Linked DNA regions of Homo sapiens. The protein of the gene in region 4 interacts with the protein of the main gene of each other region in a biochemical or structural test. Each region holds a gene or a part of one and is shown on either strand. Other genes may lie near its edges.

What was found.
Region 1: the proteins of NCK1 (region 4) and PKN2 form a complex in vitro, tested with the Homo sapiens proteins (one study listed by BioGRID).
Region 2: the proteins of NCK1 (region 4) and FGFR1 interact in a test that uses a peptide from one of them, tested with the Homo sapiens proteins (one study listed by BioGRID).
Region 3: the proteins of NCK1 (region 4) and MINK1 form a complex in vitro, tested with the Homo sapiens proteins (one study listed by BioGRID).
Region 5: the proteins of NCK1 (region 4) and ASAP1 form a complex in vitro, tested with the Homo sapiens proteins (one study listed by IntAct).
Region 6: the proteins of NCK1 (region 4) and NCKIPSD form a complex in vitro, tested with the Homo sapiens proteins (one study listed by BioGRID).
Region 7: the proteins of NCK1 (region 4) and ARHGAP32 form a complex in vitro, tested with the Homo sapiens proteins (one study listed by BioGRID).

What each region holds. Positions count from the first base shown.
Region 1 is NC_000001.11:88,830,773-88,834,272, reverse strand, and holds part of PKN2 (serine/threonine-protein kinase N2), read right to left. Parts: intron 1,530-3,500; coding exon 1,422-1,529; intron 1,197-1,421; coding exon 1,116-1,196; intron 1,029-1,115; coding exon 825-1,028; 3' UTR 1-824. UniProt on the Homo sapiens protein: PKC-related serine/threonine-protein kinase and Rho/Rac effector protein that participates in specific signal transduction responses in the cell.
Region 2 is NC_000008.11:38,458,636-38,462,135, forward strand, and holds part of FGFR1 (fibroblast growth factor receptor 1 isoform 1 precursor), read right to left. Parts: intron 2,621-3,500; exon of another isoform or gene 2,472-2,620; coding exon of another isoform or gene 2,461-2,471; intron 1-2,460. UniProt on the Homo sapiens protein: Tyrosine-protein kinase that acts as a cell-surface receptor for fibroblast growth factors and plays an essential role in the regulation of embryonic development, cell proliferation, differentiation and migration.
Region 3 is NC_000017.11:4,839,840-4,843,339, reverse strand, and holds part of MINK1 (misshapen-like kinase 1), read right to left. Parts: intron 1-3,500. UniProt on the Homo sapiens protein: Serine/threonine kinase which acts as a negative regulator of Ras-related Rap2-mediated signal transduction to control neuronal structure and AMPA receptor trafficking.
Region 4 is NC_000003.12:136,865,208-136,868,707, reverse strand, and holds part of NCK1 (SH2/SH3 adapter protein NCK1), read right to left. Parts: intron 1-3,500. UniProt on the Homo sapiens protein: Adapter protein which associates with tyrosine-phosphorylated growth factor receptors, such as KDR and PDGFRB, or their cellular substrates. Maintains low levels of EIF2S1 phosphorylation by promoting its dephosphorylation by PP1.
Region 5 is NC_000008.11:130,055,675-130,059,174, forward strand, and holds part of ASAP1 (arf-GAP with SH3 domain, ANK repeat and PH domain-containing protein 1), read right to left. Parts: intron 2,403-3,500; coding exon 2,280-2,402; intron 1-2,279. UniProt on the Homo sapiens protein: Possesses phosphatidylinositol 4,5-bisphosphate-dependent GTPase-activating protein activity for ARF1 (ADP ribosylation factor 1) and ARF5 and a lesser activity towards ARF6.
Region 6 is NC_000003.12:48,683,116-48,687,184, reverse strand, and holds the start of NCKIPSD (NCK-interacting protein with SH3 domain), read left to right. Parts: upstream 1-1,269; 5' UTR 1,270-1,377; coding exon 1,378-1,548; intron 1,549-4,069. UniProt on the Homo sapiens protein: Has an important role in stress fiber formation induced by active diaphanous protein homolog 1 (DRF1). Induces microspike formation, in vivo. In vitro, stimulates N-WASP-induced ARP2/3 complex activation in the absence of CDC42.
Region 7 is NC_000011.10:129,185,826-129,189,325, forward strand, and holds part of ARHGAP32 (rho GTPase-activating protein 32), read right to left. Parts: intron 1-3,500. UniProt on the Homo sapiens protein: GTPase-activating protein (GAP) promoting GTP hydrolysis on RHOA, CDC42 and RAC1 small GTPases. May be involved in the differentiation of neuronal cells during the formation of neurite extensions.

The DNA.
Region 1 (3,500 bases), on a different chromosome or scaffold from region 4:
CTGAAAGATATGACTGAACATACTGAGCATCTAGACTTTGGGAATGCATACAGGTAACAATATCTTGGTTCGGCTGATTAAAAGTCCTCATTCTTAACATCTTAAGTAAATGCTGATCCTGTTTGTTTCAGCACTGTTTAATAAACAAAAAAAATTGTTTGGCAAGCAGCTCTGTTGGAAAGCTATAAGCCTGTTACATGATTGATAAAAAAGGCAATATAAAGTTTTCTCCTAATAAATATAGAACATTTATAAAATAAGACATCAATTCATTCTGTTTTTTTAAAAAAAATCAAGCCCCGAGTTGTATACAAACTGCCACGGTTTTTGATATTACAGTAATGTCTTTTTTTTTAAAAAAAGGAGCATTTGCCTTATTCAAACAGAATCATACTTTGTGTGAACAGTAATAGCATTCCAAGCCCTTTTTTCTTTTTATAAAACATAGTTAAGTGATTAACTTTCCTTCCACTTAAGGCGGGCATATGGCAAAGCTAGGGACTATAAAAAAGTGGTTTTTTTCTTTCTTTTTAAAAATAGACTATTGATCCAAAAGTATTCGTGATGGATTTTCATGGCCGATGTTCACTCAACTTAAACTCCATGAAACTGTTTCCAGTGCTCATATTTACGCTGAAGTACAATGAGGAGCCACTTTTGAAGAAGTATTAGAATGGTACTTTTAAACAAATCTTCACGTGTTTCAATAAAAACAACAACAACAAAAAACTCAGAAGCTATTGGTGGCACAGAGAGCAAATGAAGGGTTGCTATTTTTAAGAGGTCTTCTTGTGAGTCAGCTTGGTTTCGCAGTGTCTAGCAACTTAACACCAATCAGCAATGTAGTCAAAATCTCTGAACATTTCCTGCTCCTCTTCCGAAAGTATCCTTGGTTCTCGAGGTGGAGTCAGAATAGGTGCTTCTGAGGTAAATTCATCATCAAAATTACTAACATCTTCTCGTCCTCTTATGGTAGGTATAAATGGTGGCTTTACTTTTTTGTCCATCAGAGCGCTCCAATCAATTAGCTGGATCATAAAATAAAAAATGACTAGTTTAGTTTGTTAAATCTAATCGCTCTAGTTTCATAAAAAATTTTAAATAGTCACACTTACCCGGAAAAATGGGTGCTTTTTTACATCCTCTGCATCTTTCTCGCTAGCCCCAAGGCGCCGTTCAGGATTTCTTCTTAACAGCTAGCATAATGTAAAATAAAAAAGTTAAAATAAAACCAATAGAATAAAATTCACTGATAAGGATTATTACTTTAAAAAACTTAGATATATTTTGTCTTTTTTTGTCTAAGCCATGCAACATTTATGAACTGAAAAACAGCTTTTAAAGTTCTACTGGGAAATTTTCTTTAGTATAAAAAATTAAAGTAGTCTTTAAAAAATTCTTATCCTTATTTTAATTCTTACCCTTCTCATTATAGAAATGGCTTCTGTAGATAAGAACCTTGGATACCTTACTTCATCATTTACAATACTGTCAAAAACTTCCTCTTCATCATCACCAGGAAAGGGAGACTAGAAGAAATACCTTTGAGTAAGTTAAAGCAAGTTTTAAGGCAGTAAAATCTTATCACCCATTCAAAGTACAACCAAGATCCAGGCAGTGAAAAAGAAAAAACAGACAAAACAACAACAACAACAACAACAACAATAAACCCATGCCTACCAAAACAACAACAAAAGAACTATAAGAAGTGACAACAGATATGTATCTATTACAGAGGGAATACACCATATACTCTTTCTGAAATCTTTAAATTTTATAGACCCTTATAAAAAACTTGTCTATCTCATATATGATATGACTTTTCATTTAATTTCATTCCACTCCATTCCATTTTATTTCATTCACTCAATCACCTATTTGGCCAGACAGTCAATTTTTAGTGTCTAACAGACAGTAGGGAATATTTAGATAATAGATAAATCCTGAAGAACCTCAATCTTGTGGAAAAACAGAAGAAAATGGATAAGGTTAATATGGTAATAAATGTTATAATAAAGGAAGGCAATCTGCGGAAATACATCAGATATAAATGTGCTTTGGATTTTAAAGTCAACAGTAAATTAATGGTGGTAAAACACAATCATGGATTAGCAAGCATAATGACTGTATTAAGAAGCAGCTGCCAACAAAATTAGACTGAAAGGAACCCAAAAAGCACACATTGCCAGGCATTTTTAATGTTCTAAACACAAAAAGTTTTAGGGCATTTCCATAAGCTCAGTATTAAAATCATTTTTCATAATGACCCTGAGACATAAAAAAGTAGTTACATTATATTCAGTATGACAATTTGATTCACAAAGAGAGAAACTTTCAACTATGCTAAAAACGTGTCTATCAAATGTGACTGCCTGCCTCAGAATTTCAGATGGCTTAAAAATCACTCAGTCATTTTTTAAATCAGGAAACAAATGTCTAAATATCATTTAATTCCTTAAAATCACTGAAATGAATTAGTATCTTGAACCTTATTTTCTCACTGGCTATTGAAGAAATATAGGCTTACTTAGCCTCGTTAGATTTGATTTGGCTGCTTGCTTCCAATTAAGTTTTAAAGAATAATAAGCAGAAAGCAATATCCAGGGAAAGTGAGCAATCTTTAAGAATCTGTGAAAATAAATTCAGAATCCAACTTCTTAAGGCTGAGCTTCTAATCTTGCTCACAGCTAAGAAAATTTCAAAGCTTACAGTTACCAAAACCTTAGTTTGTTCATTCACTCACTCAAAATACATAAATAAAATATACTACGTGGGACAATGTAGTACACTCAAAATACATAAATCAAATGTACTACATGGACAATCTAATTTCTTCTGGGGACTGAAACAGTAAGTCAGAAGAAAATTTTATTTTACTAGGATTCTCAATGGGAATTTCAATGGATAATACAAAGACAGCACTTTGGTCTTCTGCTTGAACAATTTTTACTTGAAAACTCATTCTACAAGTCTGAACAGCAAAGAAATATCTATACATTTGTTAAAATATGTAGTATCTTTTTTCTGCAAATAGATTGTAAGCAAACAGGGCTAACAACTGAAAGCTAACAAATGTGTTTTCAGCACATTTAAAGGAAACCAATAGTCTGTTCAGATGTCAACACTGACAGTATCTAAAACCATGTCCAGCATTCTGTTCAATCTCTCTGGTATCTTCACTCCCATCTGAGACAGGAAAAAGGGGACTTGCGATGTTTGTTTATTCCTGGAGTCTTTCCAGTAATCAAAACTAGTAGAAGTATACAAATCTGAACATGTATAATATATCCGGTGAGTTTACAATTATTTGTAATAATAGAGAAATCTGACATAAACTTTAGCCACACCTTACTTTCATCATAGTTAAAAAGGAGTTATCACTAGCATTTCACTAATGCTATAAAATTATGAAGTAGACTGATGAGTTTTAAGTTTAGTTCTTTTCCCAGCTACCCTCTTGTGGAGATACTAAAGAGAAATTGCAAGAAACAACTGTGAAG
Region 2 (3,500 bases), on a different chromosome or scaffold from region 4:
AAGCTAAGGACCAGTAAATGGAAGCCAGGTACAGAGATAACTAGTTAGTAGCTGCTGGACTCCATGCTCAACTCCCCGACCTATGCAATGAAGCAGCTGAAATAAATGACCTCCTGGGTACTTTCTTTTTGTCTCTAAAATTGTACGAATCACATCCATAGTTCTACCAGCCTCCCTTGCAGAGAGAAGAAAACCCTCACCAGCTACTTACAAAGAGCCTAAGAGTGTGGAGCCAGGAGGGATCCAGTTCTCCCTGATGCTGGAAGGTGACAAGTGATGTCTGACGGATATGAGTCCAGAAGTTGCGGGGGGCAAGGGGGCCTGGGAGGTCCCACTGCAGAATCAAGGTCTATTGCAAGCACTGAGTCAAAGATGGCTCACACTGGCCCCAGTTAAAAGAACAGAATCTGCAGCCCTTTACCCTTCTCAGGTCTGGTGGGGTAAAACTTAAAACTCCCCAGGGTCTTAAAGAACGGATCATAGCTGTTAACATTTACCAAGTGACAAGACTTTCTGGGCACTGTCAAGGCTACGTGGGGGTGACCATCTCTATTTTCCAGGTGGCTTCTGTCCTAAATGCTCCAGGGAGCCATCCAAGTTATTCAGAGAATCTACTTCCCCGGAACATGCCCTAATGTGGTACTTCAGCCCTGCCTCCCCCGAGCCAGGCAGGGCCCCTCGCAAGTGAGTCAGTGCTGGCTGGCAGAAAAGCCCCTGGATTCTTGGCTTCGTTCACATGTGCTTGGCCAGCGGGATACACATGCCACACCACTAGCTCCCTCCCAAGGCTTACTAAAATGTTTTAATGATTTCAAATCAAAAGAGAAGTCAACATTTCTCTTTCATTTTTCTACTTTTACGAAAGGAATCAGAAAAGAGAAAATGAAATGAATACTGAACACCCACTATGTACCAAGGATGCCCTAAGTAGAATTAATTTAGAACTATAGTGAGGAATTAATTCATTCCTCACTATAAACTTATGGGGGATAAGTTTTATTATTCCTTTTATGCAATGGAGAAACTGAGGCTCAAAGAGGTTAAGTACTTTACTCAAGGAAATGTAGCTAGCATGTAATAGTGCCTCAAGGTTTTTGGATATTAGAGAACAGGGTGGGAGGAAGTAAATAAGGGATTGATCAAGCCTGACTCCATCTGATGCAAACTCAATTTATCCAAACCAAGTAGATAAGGGTAAATCCAAGGTAACTCTGGTAACAAAAGAGGCTTGATTTGCAGTTCCATTGGTCAAAGATAGACCCTTGTGCCAGGGCATGTTGGCTCATACCTACAATCCCGGGACTTTGGGAGGCTGAGGCGGGAGTATCACCTGAGGTGGGGAGTTGAGACCAGACTGGCCAACATGGTGAAATTCCTCGTCTACTAAAAATACAAAAATTAGCTGGGTGTGGTGGTGCACGCCTGTAATCCCAGCTACTCAGGAGGCTAACGCATGAGAATTGCTTGAATTTGGGAGGTGGAGGTTGCAGTGAGCCGAGATTGCATCACTGCACTCCAGCCTGGGTGACGGAGTGAGACTCTGTCTCAAAACTAACTAACTAAAAGAAAGACCCTTGGAAGCAGACCACAGATGGGCCATCTAGGACACTGCATGGGGCACATTCCCAGAGCTGGGATAGAAGCAGTGCTTGCCAGAGGATGCCCCTAAACCCATATTCCACAACTTACTACATCCCGAAAATACACCTGATGCAGGCCTGTCACCCAGAAACGCACACCTGACCAAGAAAACCCAGGTCCCTTGCTAAGTGTCAGAATACTGAACAAGTTCTCAGGTTCCAATGGGAAAGAGTGGTGTCATGTTGAGATGGTTAAGCTTGCTTCGACTTGGCCACTCTGTCCCCAGAAAAGCCTGCCGCCTCCTCCCAGGTGTGGGCTGGCTGCAGACCGCCCTCTCTCAGCTCCCTGGTCAATGCACTTCAAATTCATCTGCCAGCTTCCCTCTTGTTCTTTCCCAAAAAAGGTACAAAAAGTCTCTTCCTCTCCTACCCCTCTGGCCCTCAAGTTTGACATCTGTAAAACAAGGATGTTAAGAAAACCTGGCCTCCTGGCACCAACTCCTGGAATAAGAAGTCAGCATACACCCCATGCCACCCGCCTGCAAAAAACACAGTGACACAGGCCACTAGTCCAACATGCTGTCTGGGACCCTGCCACCTCCTGCTTCACCTCAGTTTCTCATTCTACTAATTAATGAATTTTTCCAATCCCTTAGAAACAACTTCCTTCCTTCACTGCTTGACAGATAGATGTAACCTGCAGCCTTGCAGGTGTACACAGCAGCTTCCTCCAAGACCCTGCAGCTGGTTCCCCCCGCCCCGTCTCTCCAATATCAGCTAGGCTCCTGGGATTCATGCCTGCATGCAGAGGTCCTCGGTGGGGAGCAGAGAGGGGGCACATCTCAGTTTCCCACTCATCAGAGGGGGCTGAAATACTTGCCTTGCCTCCATCACAGGTGGTTATGAAGACTGAATGGGCTGCATGGGTGAAAGTGCCTGCTGTCTTCTCACTGGAGTACTGATCCAACATACAGGGTGGACAGTGTCTGGTGAGATAGCAGGGGCTGGACGGACCACGTGACCTTGAAGCTCTCCCACTTCTAAGAGAAAAACCTATGAATGTCAGATCTCCTTGTCCAAAAATTATGTAAGGAAAACTAGCTGACGAATTCATGGCCAAATCTTTTTATTCTTTCTGAGACAGAGTGTTGCTCTGTCACCCAAGCTAGAGTGCAGTGGCACGATCTCAACTCACTACAACCTCCATCCCCCAGACTCAAGTGATCCTCCCACCTCAGCCTCCCGAGAAGCTGGGCTAATTTTCTGTATATTTAATAAAAATGGGGTCTCACCATGTTGCCCATGCTGGTAATGAACTCCTGGGCTCAGGAGATCCACCTACAGTGGCCTCCCAAAGTGCTGGGATTACAGGCATGAGCCACCACACCCAGCCTGGGTCTTTTTATTCTTGTCCGCTGGAGACAGTATGAATTCACACCCTTCCACTTATGATCTTGCCACCCTGGGATAGTCACTTAACCGTTCTAAGCCTCGGTTTCCCACCTAGAGGAAGCCACATCACAGGTGATTATGAGGCTCAAATGGGTGGTGTGGGTGACTGTGCCCATTCTCTCCTCTCTAAAGTACCAACCAAATGTAAAGAATTATGCATTTGGATTTCAGATATAATATTAAGATATTTATAATTCTCTTTGTGTAGTGCTTTGAGTCACTCCTTAATAGCACTCTCAGGAGATTTGGTAATTGGCAGCAGAAGGACAGGAACTTCCAACCTTTCCAAAGGCATTTCTCACTCTCCATCTTCATGTCTTATATTCTAGACCTGTGGCCCACACAGTGGCCACTGCACACTTGAAATGTGGCTGGTGCTAACGGATATGCTATAAGTAAAAAGTATACACCGCATCTTAAAAACTTGTTATGAAAAAAATGTAAAGTATCTCATCAATAATTTCTATA
Region 3 (3,500 bases), on a different chromosome or scaffold from region 4:
TGCCTGGCTAATTTTTTGTATTTTTAGTAGAGACAGGGTTTCACTATGTTGGCCAGGCTGGTCTCGAACTCCTGACCTCAAGTAATCTGCCTGCCTCAGCCTCCCAAAGTGCTGGGATTACAGGCATGAGCCACTGCGCCCAGCCCAAACCAACTTCTGATCCACATCCTGCCTGTTCCCCCTACCCTGCTTCGACACGTGGGGCTCAGGTAGTTTCCACTGTGAGGAATGACCTTGTTAAGGTTAGGCGGACTCTCTCCACCTCCTCCAAACCTTAGCTACCCAAGGCCAGGAGCCTACCAAGTTCTGCTCTCTTGACTGGGACTGGGAAACAGCGAGCTGTGGAAGGCAGCTCTGCACAGCTCCAGCTCATCCCGCTCAGCTGTGCTGCTTCCCAGCCACTGGTCCACCCTGAAAGGATACACTAGGGCAAGGTGTCTTCTACTGTCTCTGGTCACTCCCCCAGATGTAAGTAATGACATTCATTCACCACACCTCTGTCTTCAAAAAGACAAGTGTAGGATGAAAAGACCCCAGAGAAGAGACGATGTGCTGGCCCCTCTCTAAGACGCCACATGCACCTGCCTATCTTTGCCTCACGCTGCTTAGGCTTTGGGGCACTCTGTCCAACTGTTTTCTTGAAGACTCTTTCCTGAGTCACTTAGAACTAAAGACTAAGTATTGCAAGCTTCAGCCACTTTCTTAAAAATGTGCCTTGAAAGAAAGAGTGGGTGGGTGGTGAAAAGAGAACATGAAAATCTTCCTTACAGTCTGGCTGGGAGCCTACCTATTTTACCTCCAGAGGTATGCTAGCAGACAAAAGCTGCTAGATATGTGCCATGCACAAGGGTAATTTAGAGCCCACATTCCTCTCTCTACCTGGAAAGAAGTACACAGGGGACTTAGGAACTACTTCCTACTTCATGGAAGAAACCTGTCCAGTCCCTCCCCGGGTCTCTCCCATGTCCATAACAAGTTCATGAGAGGTACCAGTGGCAATACGGGTGGAAAAACAGTTCTTCGATGCACTGTCCCAGACTCTGCCAGATGGTTAACATCCCCAATCCCCATGTGCTAAATGCCGTTAGTGCTCCCAAGGCAGTTTTTTTTTTTTTTTGGACAGAGTCTCGCTCTGTCGCCCAGGCTGGAGTGCAGTGGCGTGGTCTAGGCTCACTACAAGCTCCGCCTCCCGGGTTCATGCCATTCTCCTGCCTCAGCCTCCCAAGTAGCTGGGACTACAGGCGCCCACCACCGCGCCCGGCTAATTTTTTTTTGTATTTTTAGTAGAGACGGGGTTTCACCGTGTTAGCCAGGATGGTCTCGATCTCCTGACCTCGTGATCCGCCCGCCTCGGCCTCCCAAAGTGCTGGGATTACAGGCGTGAGCCACCGTGCCCGGTGCTCCCAAGACAGTTAATCCTCCCTCCTCAGCATTTCCGAACACCCCCTGGAGGCCAGCGGTGCCCTGGCTGAGAACCAGAGTCAGCACCTGTACTGCTTTGTATCCCACCGTGCCCAGCATATACTGGGCACCCTGTACTAATTGTGGATTGAATCTAGTAGGAAAGGTCCAGTCACAGACATACTTAGATCCATGTCTCTTACCAAGTAATTTCTGAACCCCTACTGTGTGCTCAGCATCTTTACAGGGATCAAGAGGAAATATGGATCACAGTCTCTACACATAAGGAAGTGGTAGGAAAAACAAGACCATAAAACATTATTCAATATAAGGCAATATATAAGCCAATGCTAAATTGTAAGGTCTGTGAGAAAGTGGATGATGTGATCAGTAAAGGCTGGCAAAATCGGAGGGGGGGCTTTGTGGGAAAAAAACATAAGTTGAGGTGGCTCTTGAAGGAGGTGGGATTGTCTTCATTCAGCCCTACCGATCCTCAGTCTGTCCCTGCCAGGACCGCTGTTCATAGAAAACTCCTCTAAGCCTGTGGTTCTAGGAGCAATTCGGCAACCCAAGCCCTTCAAATCCCATCCCCAGGTGGTTCCTGGAACAAGACGGTGTGAGAAATTTCCCATTCTTTGTCAGAAGACCAGAGAATATCAGGCCTGCTTTCAGGAGGCCTGCTCATCCCAAAGGCAATGGAAGAAACCACTGGCGGAAGTGCCCGTGCGGAGATGCCCAAGACAGAACCAAAAAGCATTTGGTGCTACGTGTACATACTGAGTCACAGGCTCTAAGTGCTGGGGCCCCCAGTTGTGACCACAGACACTCCCCACGTCGCCTGTCCCGTGTGGCCCTGGAATTTACCTGCTGTGGATGAACCTGAGGTCTCAGCTATCTCCTCTGTCAAAGGTCTTCCTGTCTCCTCCCTCGCCAACTATCACCACGTTTCTTAGGCAGCTCGTCCCCATTTCCTCCATTCATCTCTCTCCAGCCACCCAGGCTCCTCCCACAGGCTGTGCCACCAAACTCTCCTCACAGCCCACCTCACCGTCTTCTACGCTGCCATCCTCCCGACATTCAAGCTGGTCCCAGAGCCTGGCTCCTTCAGGAAGCCCAAGACTTGTGGCTTCCCCAACCCTGTTTCCTTTCAAACACGCAAAATCAGTAACACTCCCCCTCCACACCCCACTCATCCTTTACTTGTATACAATGTAAATGGAGAGTCTTGTCTATTTATATACACTATCTATCCAATGTTAGAAAGAATCCCACTTCCCACAGACCATGCAGCTAAGCTGAGGGCTGGGCCTACTTGTTCTTATTTCCGTGAGACTCACCTACCTTCCAAACTCCAGGCACCCCTTAGGCTAATAACATCTAGGGATACACCCTCCTCTCTCATATACCCCATTCTGAGGAGCCACATCTAAACTACAGACCCAGGACCCAGAGTCCCTCCCCCAGTAAGTAAAAATGAGGATTATATGAGTCATAAGCTCTTTCCATATACATGCTCTTAACTTTTGAGACAAACAAATAAACCATTTTTTTTCCCCTCCCACAGGAAGATTCAGAAGAAATCCTTTTGGAATTAAGCCTGGAGTTTCCACCCCATCCTCAGGCTTCTTGCCCTCAATTGTTGACCAAATGCTTCACCATAAGAATGGCCCCATTCCAGAGTCTCCCAATTCTCACCATCACCAAACTCTACCTGCTGGTTCAACTCTATCTCATCTTTCTGCAGCAATGCCAGTTTAGCTTTCTGACATGATTTACGTCTCTCTCAATCAACTAGATATTTTTGTCTTATAAAAGTTTTGTCTCGTAAAAGCAATTTTTTTTCCATGACACAGCCCTCAGGAGATCCTGAGAACATATGCTCAAAACAACTCTTGTTATATGTGCCCACGGCATGTTAAAGTTTTCACTACAGTCCTTATCATGGCTTGCAATCACACACACACACACACACACACACACACACACACACACACACACATTAATAAATAATTACTTGATTAATGTCTCTCCCTACTACTAGACTGTATCACCACTGTGTCCTCTGTGCCTAGTTCTAGATCTTTCCTCAAACAGAACAC
Region 4 (3,500 bases):
AAAAGACAAACTAAATTGCAGCAGTAAAACCTGTAAGAGATTCATTTTTTAGCAGATGATAGAATTCAATGGTAAACACTGGCCAGGTGCGGTGGCTCATCCCTGTAATCCCAGCACTTTGGGAGGCCAAAGCAGGCTGATTAACTGAAGTTAGGAGTTGGAGATCAGCCTGGCCAACATGGTGAAACCCTGTCTCTGCTAAAAATACAAAAATTAGCCAGGCATGGTGGCAGGCACCTGTAATTCCAGCTACTTAGGAGGCTGAGGCAGGAGAATCCCTTGAACCTGGGATGCAGAGGGTACAGTGATCCGAGATTGCCCCACTGCACTCCATCCTGAGTGACAGAGCAGGACTCCGTCTCAAGAAAAAAAAAACTCAATGGTAAACATGACAATATTATTTTTGTTAATGGTGTTAATACACCTAACAAGTATAGGGGAAAGAAACTGTATATAGACTTTATATCATTGTTTAAATAATTTACAATGTAAGGCTGGGCATGGTGGCTCATGCCTGTAATTCCAGAACTTTGGGAAGCCAAGGTGAGCGGATCACCTGAGGTCAGGAGTTTGAGACCAGCCTGGCCAACATGGTGAAACCCATCTCTACTAAAAATACAAAATTAGCCAGGTGTGGTGGCAGGTGCCTGTGATCCCAGCTCCTCAGGAGGCTGAGGCAAGAGAATTGCTTGAACCCGAGAGGCGGAGGTTGCAGTGAGCCGAGATCATGCTGCTGCACTCCAGCCAGGGCAAAAACTGCGAAACTCTGTCTCAAAAAAAAAAAAATTTACAATGTAAATATGAAGGTTCCCCTGCCCTGAAGTTTTCAATCTATGAGAAGGCATAAATACACAAAATGCAAAATAATGTGAGGCAAATAAGGCAAAATTACAAGAGATGAGAAGTAGTATGGTTTCATAAACACACAGAACTTGCGTCAGAAGATCAAGGGTTGAGTCTTTGTTCTGCCCCCATCACTAAATGTTTGAATTTTGGTGCATCTAGTCTATTTGTATTTCAGTTTCCTTATCTGTAAAACACAAGGTTGGATTCCAACATTCCAGCAATAATGCTCTATAATTCTATGATTCAAGTCCACACAACATTAAAAACCAAGGGAATACTAAAATAATAAGGGGTATGGGTTTAAAGGAAAGCAACAGACCAGGCACAGTGGCTCACCCCTATAATCCCAGCACGTTGAGAAGCCAAGGTGGGAGGATCGTTTGAGGCCAGGAATTCAAAACCAGTCTGAACAACACAGTGAGACCCTATCTCTACAAAAAAAAAAAAAAAAAAAAATTAGCCAGACATTGATGCACACCTGTAATCCTGGCCTTTGGGAGGTTCAAGTTACAATGAGGAGCTGTGATCAGGCCACTGTACTCCAGCCTGAGCAACAGAGCGAGATCCTGTCAAAAAAGAAAGAAGAAAGAAAGAAAGAGAGAGAGAGACAGACGGACGGACAGACGGATGGATGGACGGAAGGAAGGAAGGAAGGAAGGGAAAAGAAAGAAAAGAAAGAAAGAAGGAAGGAAGGAAGGAAGGAAGGAAGGAAGGAAGGAAGGAAGGAAGGAAAGAAAGAAACAAAGAAAGAAAGAAAGAAAGAAAGAAAGAAAGAAAGAAAGAAAGAAAGAAAGAAAGAAAGAAAGAAAGAAAAGCAAGCAACATAGGGAACAGGAAAAACATTTGGAAGACTGCACCAAAGGACCAAAAGCGAAAATTCAACAAATTTTACTTCATTTGCTACTTGGTAATTTAGGAGAAAAAAAAAATTTTAAAGACTAGGCAAACTGGACGGGCACAGTGGCTCACGCCTGTAATCCCAACACTTTGGGAAGCCGACGCATGTGGATCACCTGAGGTCGGGAGTTCAAGACCAGCCTGGCCAACATGGTGAAACCCCATCTCTACTAAAAATACAAAATTAGCCAGGCGTGGTGGCATGCACCTGTAATCCTAGCTACTCGGAAGACTGACACAGGAGAATCACTTGAACCAAGGAGACGGAGGTTGCAGTGAGCCAAGATGGTGCCACTGCACTCCAGCCTGGGTGACAGAGTGAGACGCCTCAAAGAAAAAAAAAAAGAAGAAAGAAAGAGGCCAGGCACAGTGGCTCACACCTGTAATCCCAGCACTTTGGCAGGCTGAGATGTGTAGATCACCTGAAGTGAGGAGTTTAAGACTGGCCTGACCAACACGGAGAAACCCCGTCTCTACTAAAAATACAAAATTAGCCAGGCATGGTGGCGCATGCCTGTAGTCCCAGCTACTAGGGAGGCTGAGGTAGGAGAATCGCTTGAACCCGGGAGGCAGAGGTTACGGGGAGCCGAGATCGCACCATTGCACTCCAGCCTGGGCAACAGAGCGAGACTCTGTCTCAAAAAAAAAAAAAGAAAGAAAGAAAGAAAAAGGAATGATACGAAGGTACAAAAATACAAAGAGTAAATAAGAATCAGAGATTGGTTTGGTTAGAGTGGACAGCTCCTATAAAGAAATAGTGCTGGCACTGATTAAAAAAAAAGAAAGAAATAGTGCTGGCCCCAGAAAAACAGGTTTGAGCAGACTGTTATTAGGCTATGAATTCTGAACTATACTCTGAAGATAACAGAGAGTTATCACTGGTTTCCGAAAAGTGAAGGATGTGTTTGAAGCATAATTCTAAGATTTAGGAAGACATACTAAGTAGAGAGAAAAATCAAGCAAAAAACCCAATTAAAGGCTAGTGAGTAGTTCAAAGATAAAAATGGCTGGCAAAAATCAGCCAATATTGTTACACGCATAGAGATAAAACCAAAGTTTGTGTCTGGGTAATTGAAAGCATGGTAATGTCACCAAAACAAAGTCAGCATATGGAATCAGTTTTGAAGGGAAGACTATAAATTCTATCTTCATTAGAGTTTAAGGTGAGGATCAGCCAGACATAAAGTTTCCTTAAATCTTTAAATGTCATATTTAGCCTTGTTGTCTTCCTAACATCACAGTATTTATAGAGAATTTGTTAACTGCTCAGTGATTTCAAAAGTTCCCTTCAATTTTACTTATTAATGAAATAATCATTTAATTTTCTAGTGCAGATAAAGAACATTTGGTATTTTTCTATATTATAAAGGTAAATTCTAAAAATTATTAAACCATGATTTTAAAAATGAACTGTATCTGTATTCATTAAGTCAAGTCTTCCTGACAAGTGATTTATAATAATCACATCAAATATACCTTCAGCTTTGAAAAACACATGGTGAAAAAGTAAAATAAGACAAAGTAAAAGTACAAAGCAATGAAAATGTAAAACTCTAGAAAATTTTTGAAAAATGAATATAGGCCAGCCACGGTGGCGCACACCTGTAATCTCAGCACTTTGGGAGGCGGAGGTGGGCAGATTGCTTGAGGTCAGGAGTTCGAGACCAGCCTTGCCAACATGGTGAAACTCCGTCTCTACTAAAAATACAGGCCGGGCGTGGTGGCTCATGCCTGTAATCCCAGCACTTTGGGAGGCC
Region 5 (3,500 bases), on a different chromosome or scaffold from region 4:
TGTAAAAATTTTCTAATTACCTCAATTAGATTAGTATTGATTGCACTAAAGAGAATCATGTAATGGGCCTTCAATAGAAAAAACAAAATCGTGCATATTGGCTTCCAATGCCAAATCGATAGAGAGGAAGGTGGTTTTAAGAGTGGAACAGAGTCAACCAGGCCTGCCCAGCTCTCCTGAAGGCTTGCCCACCCACCGCGTGTGGTCTTAGTTGGCATCATGCATGTGTGAGGTCTTTGTGAATTTCACATCACAGTTAGCATGTGTGTGTGGCACCATCTTTACATCTGGCGAGGCACGTAATGGTGGCACACACAATGTCCCCTAGGAATGATGCTAGGGACACCAATGACAGCTTCCCATTCCCCGCAGGTATCTCTGCTGTAGTCATCAGTTGCTTAGCAAAGAACATGATCACTGCTTGATTATAATAATATTAACAGATTACAAAGTGAGTTCCTCAACATCCTTGTGAGAAACGATTAATCATGTCCTATTTTTCAGAGGAAAGTGAGGCTTACAGAAGGGACATGCTTTATCCAAGGCCCATAGAGCTAGTAACTGATTCACGTGGGGGGGCTTCAGAGCCCACCTCCTCGTCATGAGATGAAGTGGACTCTCTGACAGGCTTCATGCCAGGGGCTGGCCCCACTCTGCTGACAGAGGCTGGAGGTACCCCTGGGCCTCCCCAGGCTGATCCCTTCAGTCCAGTTTCTCAACCATGGTGCTACTGGCATCCTTGCTTGTGGGGGCTCCCTGAGTACTGGAGGATGTTTAGTGGCATCCCTGGCCACTAAACTTCCATCTACTAGTTGTTGGTAGCAACCCCCTTCCTAGGTCCTGACAATCAATATTTCCAGATATTGTAAATGTCCCTGGAGGGCAAAATTGCCCCAGTTGAGTCCAAACAAAATCCCTACAGCTGTGATTAAGAATCTGAGGTCACTGTCTAGGCCTGAAGGAAGAAAAGTCAAAGGTGAATGTGTGCCCATGCCTATGTGTGTGTGCACACATGTATATACATATGTATTTCTGGGTATTCTTAGGTACTGCTGGCTCAACTGCGAGCCTCAGGTCCCTTCCTGGCAGACAGAACTGAGTCCCTCTTGGCAGGACGGGGCTCAGGCTGCCAAGGAAGGGGAATTTTCACCCTGATGTCAGGAAATGATCAACAAGGAGAGCAGAAGAGGTGGCTTATTCACTGTACCTTGGCCTGGCAGTTCCCATCGGGAGACTTACTCCCTGGCAACGTGAAAACCAATAGATGTGTGGACTGCCCTCGCAGGTCACTCACAGCCTGGGTACCTAGCAGGGCCTATGAGGATGCTGATGTCTTTCCCTCCTGATGCCTGAGCTGCAGGTTTTAATGTAAAAGGAGTTTTCATAGATATTTTCATTTAATCTTTTCCTAAAATTACGTGGAGAAGGTGTCTTGGCCTATTTGACAAAGAAAGAACTGCAGACTGGATTAAGAATTGAGTCTGAGGACTTGTCAACTGCTCAGCCTGAGCAGGAACTTGGGCATTCTGATTCCCAGCCTGGGGACAGTGTGGAATGGTGAGCAAAGCACATAGGCTCTGGGGTCAGGGCCGATCTGGAATCTTGACTTAGCCTGCTTACTGGCTGAGGGACCACAGGCAACATGCTCAACTTTCTTCCGCTTTAGTATTTATATGAAAAATCAGAAAATGCCTACAACTCACAAGGTTACATGATACCATGGGTAAAGTACATACAAATGTTAATTCTCTTGACCTGTCTTCAAAGCCCCATGGCTGTTTTTCTTTTTTTTCAGATGGAGTCTCGCTCTGTTGCCCAGGCTGGAGTGTAGTGGTGTGATCTCATCTCACTGCAACCTGTGCCTCCCGGGTTCAAGCGATTCTCCTGCCTTGGCCTCCCGAGTAGCTGGGACTACAGGTGCGTGCCACCATGCCCAGTTAATTTTTTGTATTTTTAGTAGACACGGGGTTTCACCATGCTGGCCAGGCTGGTCTCGAACTCCCGACCTCGAGATCCATCCGCCTCAGCCTCCCAAAGTGCTGGGATTACAGGCGTGAGCCACTGTGCCCGGCCAGCTCCACGGCTGTTTTTCTAGCATGTAATAGTGTGTGACATAGAAAAGACACCAAATGCAATGGCTGTTGGGTGAGTGATGCAGCTGACAGGGTCCTTGTGCTCAAGAGCCCTCTTTTACTGCACTGTCTGTAGGCTCCAATGTGGTGCCTGCCCAGGCATGCTGTATGAATGTACGGATGAAGTGGATGGATATTCGTACGTACCCACCACTCCTGGTCCTCTTCCCCTGTGACGATAATCACTTCTCCCTCGATGAATGTGAGCTCGTCATCGTTGTCTGCCTGGCAGTCATAAATGGTCTTCACTCGCCTCACTTTATTTTTCCCCTTAAAGAAAGAAACTGGGTTTTAATTGAAAGAATGGACTGAATGGAAAAAAAGAGCAGCGGTTCTTTGTAAAATGGTTGACCTTGGCCAGTAACTTAACCTCGCTGAGCCTTGATTTCCTCACCCTTGAAGGGCGGGAAGAAGAGTGTCTGTCAGGCACCCAGCATACTGTGTACTCTTAACTACAGGCCCTTCCTCTCCCCCCATCATCAGGGTGGCCCTGCATTGGTGATTGGGCATCATCAAGTTATTTTCACCAGAAAGCAAACACTATGGGTAGGGATCAAAATTGAGCTTCACCAAAAACCATCAAGCACTCTGTACGCACCCCCAACCCACATCAGCTTGCAGAATGACAGCAGAGTCTAAAAATGTTTTTAGGAAACATGATGTAAAGCAAAATCTGCAGCTTCTGCATAATGAATGTGCAGCATAAACAAATTTGTCAGTCCCCTCATGCAAAACAGCAAGTCAGTACATGCTGGTTAAACACAGCAGGATCGGCCTGGGGCTCGGAGAAGTCTATGCAGTTCCTAAAACAGTTTTAATTTTTGATTAGTTTTGATTTGAGCATTTATTTGTTGAACTTCCAGTTCTTTGCAAATAGAAAAGTGAAAATAGAGGTATCACCTTCTAAATGATGGGTTTTTGTTTTGCACCTGGCTAATTGGCAATTTTAAAAAAAGCAAGCTGTCTCTTTAAATGTTTTGGGTGGAGTGCCTCTTCCTCTCTGTCCCCTGGTTTCTCCTTTAATCACCCTGATAGTTCCAGCTGCTTTCCGAGCTCCCTTCTGGGCCGTGCGGGTGGGTTGGAGAAGCCTGGCAGAACTGTGGCAGTGACTGCGTGAGCAACTGAGAGGCCTGTAGTGTGTTAATTTATAACACAGAGATTAAATGACATAATAAAACTATATAGTGTGTAGCATGAAATGAAAATTTTGCATCAGTGGTGCTTGGGAGTCATGGGAGAGTTCCCTTTTGAATAGCAGAAGTATCCACCATCAGACACGGCAGCCTCCAACCTACAGGAAGATGGGTTTTATTTTTCTTAATTTAAGTATTGATATGACACACTTTTACTGCAACATTTAAATTTTTT
Region 6 (4,069 bases), about 88 Mb from region 4:
CCATAATCCCAACACTGGGAGGACTGCTTGAGTCCGGGAATTTGAGACTAGCCAGAGCAACATAGCAAGACCTTGTCTCTACTAAAAAAAAAAAAAAAAAAAAAAAAAAAAAAAGCTGAGTGTGGTGGTGCATGCCTGTAGTCCCAGAGACAGTAGGCTTGAGCCTGGAAGATCAAGGCTGCAATGAGCTTGATCATCCCACTGCACTCCAGCCTGGACGACAGAGCAAGACCCTGTCTCAAAAAATAAATACAGATAAAAATAGAAAACTTGCACACACTGGCCTGTACACGCCTCCTGCTTCCTGGGCTCGGGCTTCCTGTGGAGCGTAGCTGGACCATTCTCAGCCACAGTCTCTCCAGGACCCTGAGGGCCTCTTCCCTGGGTCTTCCAGGCACTCTTATTACACGGATTTCATATATCTGGAGATCTGGGCTGACTGGAAAGCTGGGTGGATCAAATAGGCTCTTAAGGCCACCGTGGTACCCCACTCCCTCTTTCAGCCCTCCTCTATGCTCTCAGAAAGGGGCATCGCAAATCTTAAGTCCTATAAAGACAATAAAACACAGCAAGATGATAGCGATTGATGGGGGTGGGAGCTTGACGGACAAATACTATAGGAGAGGGAAGGGAAAATTGTCCCAGGTAGAGGGAACAGAATATGCAAAGGCCCAATATAGAGAAAACCAGCCATAGCTGAAGAGAGAGGAGGAGTAGGGGTGGGGAGCAAAGATGGGAGGGCTTTAGACAGGGAATAGCCCCGCCTGGTTTCTGCTTTTGTGGCCCCCTTCTCCCCACACTTGCTCCCCACTGGCCACCACCGGCACTCGGTGAAGACAGGTGGTGAGGCCTAGACACACCGAGAGCCGGGCCCCGCGGGGGCTTCCAAGTGTCGGATCAGCAAGATCATCCTTTCGAGGTCGCCGTCCTTGCAATTAGTAGATGGGACCCACTGCCCCAGGGCGGTAGGGGCGCACCCGCTACGAGCGGAGCGCGCTTTCACCGGGAGGTAGGACGGGACGCAGCGCTCGGACTTAAGCGGGGAAAGGGAGCAGAGGGCTGGACGGGTGAAACTGAGGCCGGGGTGAGGAGTGAGGGTGCGGTGTCCGGGGATGAGGGGCCTGGAGCCGGGAGGGACCAGAGGAGACAGCGAGCTGTCGACCCCAGCCCCGCCGCACCTCTTGGGGCCGCGCGGGGGCGCTGCTCTCCGATGCGTGGAACGATACAGCCCGGGGCGGGGCTTCGGCGGGCGGGCGCGCGCGCGCCTGCGTAGTGTGTCACGGGGCGGGACAACCGCGGCGCGGCTCGGCGCTCCCGGCCTGGCGTTGTGGCGCCGCAGCCCTTGCCACCTTCCCTGCACCTGCCCTGCCCGGCCTCATGTACCGCGCGCTGTACGCGTTCCGCTCGGCGGAGCCCAACGCGCTGGCGTTCGCCGCGGGCGAGACCTTCCTGGTGCTAGAGCGAAGCAGCGCGCACTGGTGGCTGGCCGCGCGGGCGCGCAGTGGTGAGACGGGCTACGTGCCGCCAGCCTACCTGCGCCGCCTGCAGGTGAGTGCGCCCCTTCCCGCCCGGCCTCCGCGCCCCTGGGGCAGGACCCCTTCACAGCCCCGCGGAACCGACCCAGGGACCCCACCCTCTCCGGGACCCGAGGCCAGGACCTCTATCAGACAGGGAGTTTGAGAACCTGACCCTGAGACCCCCGGACCCACGGGGACTGAGACCCCAAGTGTCAGCATCACCCACAAAAGACCAGGCCCTTGACAGACCAACTCCCGATCGACCAAAAGCCTAACTCTGGGACTGAGACTCCTCAGGACCCCAGACCCTTCAGTATCGAGTCCGCCATCTGAATGGCGACCCTGAGCCCCACCGAATCCTGGCCAATTATTCAAATCCCTGAGACCCCAGATCCTTAATATGCCCCTTCTCTGGATTCCTAGGACCCCACAACCAACCTCCCTCCCTCCCTCCCTCCCTCCCTCCCTCCCTCCCTTCCTTCTTCCCCCAACCCCGCGCCTTGCCCCCCGTTGGAGCCACCACTGAGACCTGGACCACCTTGGACACCACCTGTTTCCCTAGCCATTCTCCAGGTCCTCAACCCCCCAACTTGGACCCTAGAGCCATAGACACCTCCATCCCCTATGTAACACCCAAGCTTTGGTACTTCAGTGTCTTTCACTAGCCTGTGTTCAGCCACCCTCTAAGCTCTTCTTAAGTCTCTACCAACCTTATTTGAACCAAGGACCCATGCCCCTGCTGACACTGTCTGCTCCACTCCCCAACCCTGACTTCTCAAACTTTCTTGCTTTGAAAATGGGTTCCATCCCTACTTGTTCCCAGCCTGGAGTGGGGACTGCTCACATTGTGATGAAGTGAGTTCTTATAGCTTCTCCTGGTCTGATCGTGGCCCCATTTCCTTCCAGTGGAAGCTGCAGTCCCAGTTCCTGTTTCCCTAAGAGTAGCCCTGCTGCGGGGGTTGGGGTGCGTATCTCCAGCTGGTCTATTCTGACCACAGGGGGAAGAAGGGCCCAGAGCTGCCGGGCCTGTGCCAGACACCCCCGCCCCGTCCTAGTCCTTATCCTTTAGGAAACATCCTGTCCCAGCCCAGTTCAGGACAGAAATAACGGGATAAATTTGGAAGTGTCATCTGGTCTTACCAGGAAGGATGGGCCCTGGGGGCCTAGGGGCTTCCTCATAGACCCTTGGCGTGATCCCATCTAGGAGTGCCAGGGGTGGGAGTGGGGGCCGTGGACACCATGGCTGCTGTGTGTCAGACCCAACCTTTTTGGGAATGGGGTCTCATTGAAGGCCTCTGAGGAAAAGTCCTGTCTCTTCCCCTACTGGGCATAGGTCAAGGGCCTGTGAGTCCCCTGCCGCCAGCCAGGACCAGTGGGGCAAGGTGTTTGGGGAGGGCAGAGAGGCTACCATCTTCTCTGTCACTGTCTGTTTCTTTCTGCGTGTCTCTTTCTGTCTGGATTGCTGCGACTCTGTGCCTCTCTGCCTGTGTCGTTCCGACTCCACATGTGTGTGTTTTTGTTTCTTCCTCCGGCTCCCCCCACACTCTGGCTTTGGCTCTGTTTCTTTCTGCGTTGTTTCCCTCTGTCTGCCTCTCCGTTCCTCTCTGAGCTCCTCTCTTTCCCCATTCCTTTCTTTCTCTCTCTCTCTGTGTGTGTGTGTGTGTGTGTGTGTGTGTGTGTGTGTGTGTCTTCATGTCTTTCTATCCCCCTGTCTCCTCTCCCTGCACTCTGGCACACCTCATACCACCTGGAGGGCTTTGCTGACCTCTGTGCCCACCTGTCTGTGCCCATCAGGGAAGCTTCTCAAACCCATGGTGGAATGAGTTCATCTCAGCTCCGGGACTCCTATGTAGCCTGATGGACTACGTGTGCCAGGGCCAGGGGAGGGCTGGGGGTAGCTGGTTTGATAGCTGCTACCCTACACTCCCCATGTCAGATAGGCAGAGTAGACTGGATCCCTGGAATGTTGGGGATGGCAGTACAGAGCCTGGAACAGGGGCTAGGCCCCTCTCTCATGTTTATCCTTTGCCACAAACACAGAACTGCTTCCCAGGGTGGGTTTGGAAGCTTACTGAGACATCTTGTGGGGATGAGGGCCAGCAGCAGGGTTGGGGAGGGCAAGTCCCTTTGACCCATTCTCAGCTCCCAGGGCTTACAGAGGGCCCTTACAAGGACAGGGCTGTTCTGGGGTATGACCTTGGTTTTGTGAAAGATCAGCAAGATGCAGAGTGATGTATTAAGGATTCCAGATACTGGAGACTTCCTGTTTGGCATCTCAACCTGGGCTCTGAGCCAAGACCAGGGATAGACGAGGTATGCGCTCCTGGCTGCAAGCTGGGAGCCCCTGGGCTATGTTTTTGCTTTAGACCTCTGATTTTCAGAAACATCTTAGCCAAGAGCCTTGCTGTGGGGTAAAATCCTGATCAGGACCTAATATGTAATGTGGCAGCATGGGGGTCACCCTGTGCCTCAGCTCCCTGAGTGATACAGTTTGAGAACCCCATTCCATATTCTGGTTCAACTTTTTGTGCTATGTCTAGCATTCCAGGCTT
Region 7 (3,500 bases), on a different chromosome or scaffold from region 4:
AAGAGAGAGAGAAAACCTGGGTGAAAGAAATCATTTTATTTTCAAATAGAGAAAATACATGTATGATTATGAGAACATGGAAATGGAAACTAATCATTAATGTAAAGAAAAGTATAGCGCAACTTCCAAAATTAAGTATCTGGGAAGGTTTTGCCTGCTCTGAATATCATCTTGCTAAGCTAGTCACTTGACATATTTAATTTAAAAAAAAAGAAAATTAACTAATTTATAAATAGAGCTTTAAATGTTTCAGGGATTTCAATTTATTTTTGAAAGTCCTATTGACTATTTAAGAGAGTTCAGTGCCAAAGTGAAATGCAAGAGTTAGAAAAATTAGGTTTGGGTTTAAACTTTTTAACTTCAATTAAACAACCTAATAACCAGGAACTTTTATACAGGTCTATATCGTTTGTGTACTCTAGGGCCTTTCTTGAACATCAAAATACTCATACAGATAGATACAAGAAAGGCCCACCTTGGACTCCATCCCAAAGGGCTTAATTACTAAAATACCAAGAAAGTCTTGTACTGGCATGCCTCACGGTTAAGACAGATTCATTTCACAGATTATGAAGACAGCCTAATGGCTAGACTCCATTACTGCCTAAAATGTTCTGAGATTAAGGGATGTTCATATCAGACTTTGCTGATTACTATTAAATTCACTGATGAGAGTATGTTGGGTGAATGTTATACTTACTGTTAAAAGAATATTTTAGAAGCTTCTACACAGCAAAGAAAACAATCAACAAAGTGAAGAGACAACCCACAGCAAGGGAGAAAATATTTGCAAAAAGGGATTAATTACCAGAATATATAAGGAGCCCAAACAACTCTATAGGAAAAAATGTAATAATCCGATTTAAAAATGGGCAAAAGATTTGAACAGGCATTTCTCAAAAGACGGCAACAAATGGCAAACAAGCGTAGGAAAAAGTGCTCAACATCACTGATCATCAGAGAAATGCAAATCAAAACTACAGTGAGAGATCATCTCACCCCAGTTAAAATGGCTTATATCCAAAAGAAAGGCAATAACAAATGCCGGCAACAATGTGGAGAAATGGGAACCCTCACACATTGTTGGCAGGAATGTAAATTAGGCAACTACTATGAAGAAAAGTTTGGAAGTTCCTCAAAAAAACTAAAAATAGAGCTACCATATGATCTAGCCATCCCACTGTTGGACATATACCCAAATGAAAGGAAATCAGTCTACTGAAGAGGTATCTGCACTCCCATATTTGTTGCAGCACTGTTCACAATAGCCAAGATCTGAAAGCAACCTAAGTGTCCATCAATGGATGAATGGATAAAGAAAATGTGGTACTTATACCCAATGGAATACTATTCAGTCATAAAAAATAATGAGATTTAGTCATTTGCAACAACATGGTTGGAGCTAGAGGTCATTATGTTAAGTGAAATAAGCCAGGCACGGAAAGACAAACATCACATGTTCTCACTTATTTGTGTGATCTAAAAATCAAAACAATTAAACTCATGGACACAGAGAGTAGAAGGATGGTTACCAGAGGCTGGGAAGGGTGGTGGGGGCATAGTGGGAGGCTGGTGGGGATAGTTAATGGGTCCAAAAAGTAGTTAGAATAAATGAATAAGGCCTAGTATTTGATAGCACAATAGGGTGACTATAGTCAATAATAATTTAATTGTACACTGAAAAATAATTAAAAGAGTATAATTGGATTGTTTATAAAACAAAGGGTAAATGCTTGAGGGGATGGATATCCCATCATGAGGGGATGGTTACCCCATCTTCCATGATATGATTATTACACATTGTGTGCCTATATCAAAACATCTCATGTACCCCATAAAAATATATACCCACTATGAACCCCCTAAAATTAAAAATAATTTTTTAAAATAATATTTTAGGGGCTAAACTAAATCCCAGATGTTTCTTCAAGGTTACAAAACAATATAAGTTGTAGCTTTTTGGGCAAAATATACATCTTTTTTGACATCATAAGTAATAGGTTATTAAAGATGTGGTGCCTTTGAAAAGCCACACAGTATAAAATGGGCCTGGGTGTGATATGGTATTTATGGACATACAGTTAATTGGGTTTTTTTGTTTTGGTTTTTTTGTGTGGTTTTTTTGTTTGTTGAGGTTTGTTTGTTTTTGAGATGGAGTCTCATTTTGTCACCCAGGCTGGAATGCAGTGCCGTAATCTCAGCTCACTGCAATCTCTACCTCCCAGGTTCAAGCAATTCTCCTGCCTCAGCCTCCCAAATAGCTGGGATTACAGGAACCCGCCACCACACCCAGCTAATTTTTGTATTTTTAGTAGAGACAGGGTTTCACCATGTTGGCCAGGCTGATCTCAAACTCCTGACCTCAGGTGATCTGCCTGCCTCAGCCTCCCAAAGTGCTGGGATTACAGGTGTGAGCCACCATGCCCAGCCTCAGTTAATTGTTAATACTACCTCTCTGTACTTCCAGGATCATTAAAACTGGCTGGGAAGCCTGAAATCAAGAATTTCTGCAGAAGATAAAAGAACAGGCAGAGTAATAAAAACAGAAAATCTTGAAATTGTTTTATGGGCTTCCAGGGGAAATGAGCCATTAAAAGAAATCATCTAGATCTGATCTGATCGCCTGGGCCTGGGAGTTCAAAGCTGTTTTGAGCCTAGAAGATGTACAATACCACAGTCAAGACCCTTACTACCTACTTAGACTGCCACAATAGCTTCTAACTTGTGGCATCCTTCCAAATAAGATAACTGGTCCACGGTCCAGGGGTTGGGAACCCCTGAGGTAGAGGATGAATAATGCAACCAACCAACGAGTCAAGTGCATGAAGTATCATTAGTTCTATAATGCTATAAATCAATAAAGGCATTGTCCCCCCCAATTAAAATATGTTCACCAAATCATCCAGTTTAACTAAAGTCAGAACTTTCTCGTCACTTAAAATGAATTGCCTTAATAATGGAGATATACGTGAAGATCAGCGATCTGGGCATCTACAGATCGTGATCAAAAATATGGTTCAATTAAGCACTATATCATCTCTGTAGCTGCTTCAAATTATATGTCATATTTGCCAGGCTGTCTATCAGCCCATAACGTGGTATTAGGGAAGTCTAAACAAAATCATATGATAAACATTTCTACCTTCAAATGCCAAAGAACTAGAACCTTTCATGATTCCTAGGTGTCCTAGAGGTCACATTTTTTAAAAGTCACATTATTGTGTTCATTACTTCATTTTTATGATGGTCACATAATCTATATGTCATTGATGCTCATAACCTCCTCAAAAAAAAGGAATTTCAAAACTTGAGATATCAGCTGTAGCCTCTTATAAGTTATCACTTAGCAGAAAATAGCATTTAGCAGAAGATAGCCCCAAAAATCTTTCATTAAAGTCTTCACTTTCAAAGTCAGTTACATCTGGGTTCAAATTTTTGTGCTACCACTTGCAAAATTTTGCTCCACCATGACAAATGTGGGCTGTGTGACTCTCTGAGCC